2 separate regions of the Homo sapiens genome follow, and region 2 is linked to region 1. The links come from fine-mapping of genetic effects on gene expression. Tissue or cell type: regulatory T cells. Region 1 holds a variant in brackets; the other region holds the start of a gene. All regions are shown on one strand. Distances are from middle to middle.

Region 1 (2,751 bases):
CATTCCAGCTTGGGCAACAGAGTGAGACTTAATCAAAAAAAAAAAAGGAAAGAAAAGGAATAAGCGTTGGTTATGTTAATCAGTGGTGATCATGATTTATATAGGGTATATAAAAGAAGAAACTACCAGAAGTAACACAGCCCAGGGTGAAGCTGGACAGTCAAGGCGTTCAGATCTCTATATTATTATTAAGAAGAAGTGTTAACTTCAGACTTCACTGCAGCAGATGTGAGTGTTGAAAACTTAAGGGTTCCCAAAGTGTAGAAACAGGTTGCAAATCTTCCAAATAAATACCAGGTAGAAAGAATACTTTCTGAAAACCACCTTGTCCAGGCCGGGCGCGGTGGCTCACGCCTGTAATCCCAGCACTTTGGGAGGCCAAGGCGAGTGGATCACGAGGTCAGGAGATCGAGACCATCCTGGCTAACATGGTGAAACCCCGTCTCTAATAAAAATACAAAAAATTAGCCGGGCGTGGTGGCGGGCGCCTGTAGTCCCAGCTACTCGGGAGGCTGAGGCAGGAGAATGGCGTGAACCCGGGAGGCGGAGCTTGCAGTGAGCCGAGATGGTGCCACTGCACTCCAGCCTGGGCAGCAGAACGAGACTCCGTCTCAAGAAAAAAAAAAAAAAAAAAAGAAAACCACCTTGTCCAGCTTTAATCAAAGGCATAGAAGGCTGGGGGAGGGGCAAGGGAACCAGAGCTGTAACTAAAAATCATAAAATAACATGGCAGCAGCAGTTGTCAGTAAACAGAACTCACCAGCTCGAAAGAATGTGAGATTCGAGGAATTTTTTTTTCTTTAATTTGGCTATGTGGTGTATAAGAGACACATCCAAAACATAATGGTGTCGAAAGGTTGAAAGTTAGGAGTTGGAAACAAGACACTAGGTAAACATTAACCATAAGAAAGCTGCTCTAGCTATAGTCCTAGTGCTACAGCGACAGTGATGCCATATGCAGAATATACTTCAAAATGAAAGAGAGCGGGTAGAAATGTGAAGGGTTACCGCAGGCTCAGAGAAAGTCTCTGGACCTGAAGGCTCAAGGAACATTGATTAAAGTGGACCATCCTCACTGGTGCCGTGGCTTATACCTGTAATCCCAGCACTTTGGGAGGCCAAGGCAGGAGGATTGCTTGAGCCCAGGAGGTCGAGACCAGCTTGGGCAAAAAGCAAGACCCTGTCTCTAAGAAAAAAATAGTAAAAAAACTAGGCATGGGGTGGTGGCTCACATCTGTAATCCTAGCACTTTAGGAGGCCAAGATGGGCGGATTGCCTGAGCTCAGGAGTTTGAGACCAGCCCGGGCAAAATGGTGAACCCCTGTCTCTACTAAAATACAGAAAATTAGGCATGGCGGCTTGCGCCTGTAGTCCCAGCTACTTGGGAGGCTGAGATGGGAGAATCACTGGAATCCAGTAGGTGGAGGTTGCAGTTAGCTGAGATCACACCACTGCACTCCAGCCTGTGCGGCAGAGTGAGACTCCATCTTC[CA/C]AAAAAAAAAAAAAAAAAAAAAAATTAGCTGGCAGATGTCTGTAGTCTGAGCTACTTGGGAGGCTAAGGTGGGAGGATCACTTGAGCCCAGGAGATTGAGGCTGCAGTGAGCTAGGATGGTGCCACTGTGCTGGCTCTAGCCTGGGTGACAGTGAGACCCTGTTTGTAAAAATAATTTTGTTGTTTTTTTTGAGACGGTTCTGTTCTGTTGCCCAGGCTGGAGTGCAGTGGTGTGATCTTGGCTCACTGCAACCTCCACCTCCTGGGGTTAAGCAATTCTCCTGCCTCAGCCTCCTGAGTAGCTGGGATTACAGGTGTCCACCACCACACCCGGCTAATTTTGTATTTTTAGTAGATACGGGGTTTCTCCATGTTGTCCAGGCTGGTCTCGAACTCCTGAGCTCAGGTGATCCGCCCGCCTCGGCCTCCCAAAGTGCTGGGATTAGAGGCGTGAGCCACCGTGCCCGGCCAATAATAATTTTTAAAAAGCAAAAATAAAATCAAAGGAAGGTTTAGAAAATAAAGGGAAAATCTCACAGCAAAATGACAGCTGGTAAATGATATGAAAAAAATAAACAGAGGCTGAGTGTGGGTGTTGCAGTATCCGAATAATATATATTACGAAAAGAGAAAAATATCAATGGAAATTCAAGGAAAAGTGCGGCCAAGACGTCCTTCAGTAGATGAATGGATCAACTCCGTGCATCCAGATGGTGGAACATTATTTAGTCCTGAAAAGATGTTCTCAAGCCGTGGAGAGGCCTGCATGAGCCTTAAGTGCGTATCGCTGAGTGAGAGAAATTATTCTGTGTGACCCCAACTCTCCGACGTTCTGCAGAAGCCAAACTGGCCAGATGCCTGGAATGAGCTCCCCGCGTTCATGAGGGCTGGTTTCCGGCAGTGGCATTGGGAGGCTTTGTTAACATTGGTTCTTGTGCTTGTCTGCCTTGTTTAAGTTCCTTACAAAGAGCATGTGCCATTTTTACAAAATGAAGGAAGTGGGTTCTGTCCCGTAGGGTTGAGGAGCCGAGATGCGGGGACCAAGGGACGTCAGCGCGTTGGTTCTGGCCGCGGGAAAACGGGCGGTCGCTGTGACCGTCTCTGCGCTCTCCGCGTTGCTAACGCCCCACTCCCGGGAAAGACCCGGAGACGGGACCACCGCATGTGGAAACCACCGGGAAGCACAGCGCGTGGGCCGCCTGAGCGGTGCCGGGGCGGGGAGGCAGGGCCGCCGCTCAGGCCGTGGACCTCGGGGCCGC
Region 2 (2,503 bases), 270 kb before region 1:
AGCCCAGCGGCTTCACTCCCTCCCGAGGGCCCCGTGGCCGCGGCTTTAGGCGTCCAGAGGATCGATCGCCGCCAGACATCCCTGGCCGTGATTGCCCGAGCACTTGACCGCGAGGGATGGGGGCGCCGCGGCCTCTGGGCAGGGGACTCCGGGCGCCCCGAGGGAGCAGCCGGGACCAGTGCCTCGCGGACGGATTGTGCCCCGCTCCCCCAAGGGGGACCCGCGTCGACACGCTCCTCGGTCACCGTCCTCCTCCTGCCCGGGCGCCGCCTGCCTAAGGTGGCCCCAGAAAGCACAAACGGGTCGGGCGGATCTGCCGCTGGCGCCGGCGCAGCCCTTCCCACGTGCTCCTTCCGGCTGATTTATTTCTCCACCACGATGCCAGGCACGGGCACCCTGTGCCAAGCCTGGTTAAGCGCCAGGAGTCCAAAATGCCTGCCATAGTCCCTGCGCAAAGTTCACGGCCTCGTGCCAGGGACAGACAGCGCCCCCTCCCCACCCCAACACAGGGTGGTGAGTGCGATGGCAGAAGGCGCGTGTCCCGGCGCCCCTCCTGGAGTAGGAGGGCTAAGCCTGCCCTGCGGGGAGACCGAAAGGCTGGGAGGGACCTAGGACTGTGGGGGCCTGGGGGGAGGGCTGCAGAAACCCCAGAGCATGGTGGCAGAGGCAGGCACAGAAAGCAGGACAAATCTCACACCTGACCCCAGCAAGCCTTTCCTGGCACACCTCTTGCCAAATGCTGAGCACTCTGGAAACAGCCAGTGCAGGCGGCCTGTCCCGCCCCTGTAGCTGCTGCTGGGAGCCTCCCTCGCCTGCGTCCTCCCAGAATCTGGCCTCACTTCTGCAGGCCTGGGGTAACATCTTGGGGTCAGCGCCCCAGGAGAGGAGGCGCCTGGAGGCAGCAGAGATGTTTATGTAACAGCAGCCAGGCAGCCTGGAGGAGCAGATTTTCCATAGAAGGAAGCGCGGGGCTGTGCAGCTCCCAGGCTGAGGACTCTGCCCACCACGACGTCCTCTGCTCCTGGTGGGTGGGGGTGGGGTGGGGCATAGGGAGGCCCGAAGGCCTCAGGCCTGGTGCTGATCGGGTGCGGGTGCGACTGCCTGTGTGCCTCCATTGGCATCTCTGCCTGTGGGCCCCAGGCCAGAAGTAATGGCCCATGTAGCCCAGGCCCGGGGGCCAGTCCTCAGCATTTTGCGGAGGGGCGGCCTGGGAGGGGAGGAGGGGATCCCTGGATAGGGGGTCTCCCCTGGTCTGCCCCAGCTGTGCCGACAGCACCTCCACCTTGGGCCTCCATCCTCTACCAGCAGAGAAGAGAGTGGCCCATTCGGTGTCCACCCGTCAGGCCACCCAGCAGCCAGGCACGCTCATAAGCCCGCGTTACGGATGGTGCGGCCGGGTGCACAGGCCCGAGGGAAGCACAGGCCTCGGCCTCCCAGCTCCCAACCCCTGCACCACCCACAGCCGGGAGTACCCCATGGACAGCTGTGGCCGAGGAGAAGCCAGGGATGAGGGGGATGGGCCTCACCTCCCCACCAGCCTGGGAAGGGGGTAGGCCCCTGGCAAGTAGGTGAGAAGCTTTTTCATTCACAAGTTGTCCGGGCTCCCCATTCCTCTTTGTCAGGCCAGCGGGTGTGGGCAGTCGGGGGAGGCTGGGGTCCTGACACAACAGGAGTACATCTGCTGGCCTAGGGCCTGGAGACCTTCTCCTACAGGTCGGGAGGCAGCCCTGGGCAGCGGGCATTGCGGGGACTAAAGAGAAACAAGAGCAGGTTGTGTGCAGGGCACCCCAGCCACTCCAGAAACCCAATGGGAGGGTGGGGGCTAGGACCCCAAGAAGCTGAATTGGGGTGCAGTGCCGCCAGGCCTCCCCTGTAGGAGTCACTTTGGGCTTCCTGTCCCAACTTGTGGTGGGAGCTGGGGCAAGGTTCCAGGGGTACCCCGAATGAATGGGGCTGTTCCCAAGCTGGCCAGGGAGCCTGGAAGCAGATGAGATGGGGCCGCAGAGCCTGGTTTGCGGAGGGGAGAGGCAGACGTGTCCTGCAGCCCTCTCTTCTTCAGAGGCCCCCTGCGGGTGCTGAGGGGAGAGTGGCTTAGGCGTTGCACCCCAGGAGACTGAACTGGGTCAGTTCCCCCTTGTTTGCTGCCAGAGAAATGGGGGTACCATTGTCAGGGTGAGCTAAGGAGGCCCTGCTGACATTGGCCCAACCAGGCCCCTCCTTTGCGGCTGCTGTGGGGACTTTCGAGAGCAGAGCACACCCCTAAGTGCGTGGAGAGGTAAGCACAGCTGGTGAGCACACGGGGACAGCGACGGAGCTCATGGAGACCCAGGTGACCTTAAAACACCCCAGGGCCGGCTCCGGCCCCAGAGAGATGTGGTCCGAGTAGAGGGGGGTCAGCAGTGACCTGGTGGGTGGGTGTATTTGAGGGGTGCCTGTGTTGAAAGCTCTGCAGTAGATTCTAAGGAGCAGCCAGGGCTGAGACTCCCGGTGCTGAGCCCAAGGC

Direction of the effects. Alleles are on the strand shown, and positions count from the first base shown. SD is a standard deviation of normalised expression in the study named.
For the expression in regulatory T cells of the gene that starts at base 1,309 in region 2, allele C in region 1 goes with a higher level than allele CA (large effect, 1.0 SD a copy in Bossini-Castillo 2019).

Evidence for each region. PIP is the estimated chance that this variant, and not a neighbour inherited with it, causes the effect.
Region 2: it holds the start of NALT1, and the variant in region 1 is fine-mapped to the expression of NALT1 in regulatory T cells (Bossini-Castillo 2019, PIP 0.95).

Annotation. Positions count from the first base shown.
Region 1 is chr9:136,818,709-136,821,459 of GRCh38, forward strand. All of the region lies in intron 1 of RABL6 (RAB, member RAS oncogene family like 6), which reads left to right. Among named protein-coding and RNA genes, the nearest start is that of MIR4292, 11 kb to the right of the region's middle. The variant CA/C (reference allele first, on the strand shown) is at 1,492.
Region 2 is chr9:136,546,534-136,549,036 of GRCh38, forward strand. It overlaps NALT1 (NOTCH1 associated lncRNA in T cell acute lymphoblastic leukemia 1), which reads left to right and starts at 1,309. Exons shown (of 3, transcript NR_121577.1): 1 at 1,309-1,568. RefSeq lists a silencer at 80-179 and an enhancer at 372-1,283.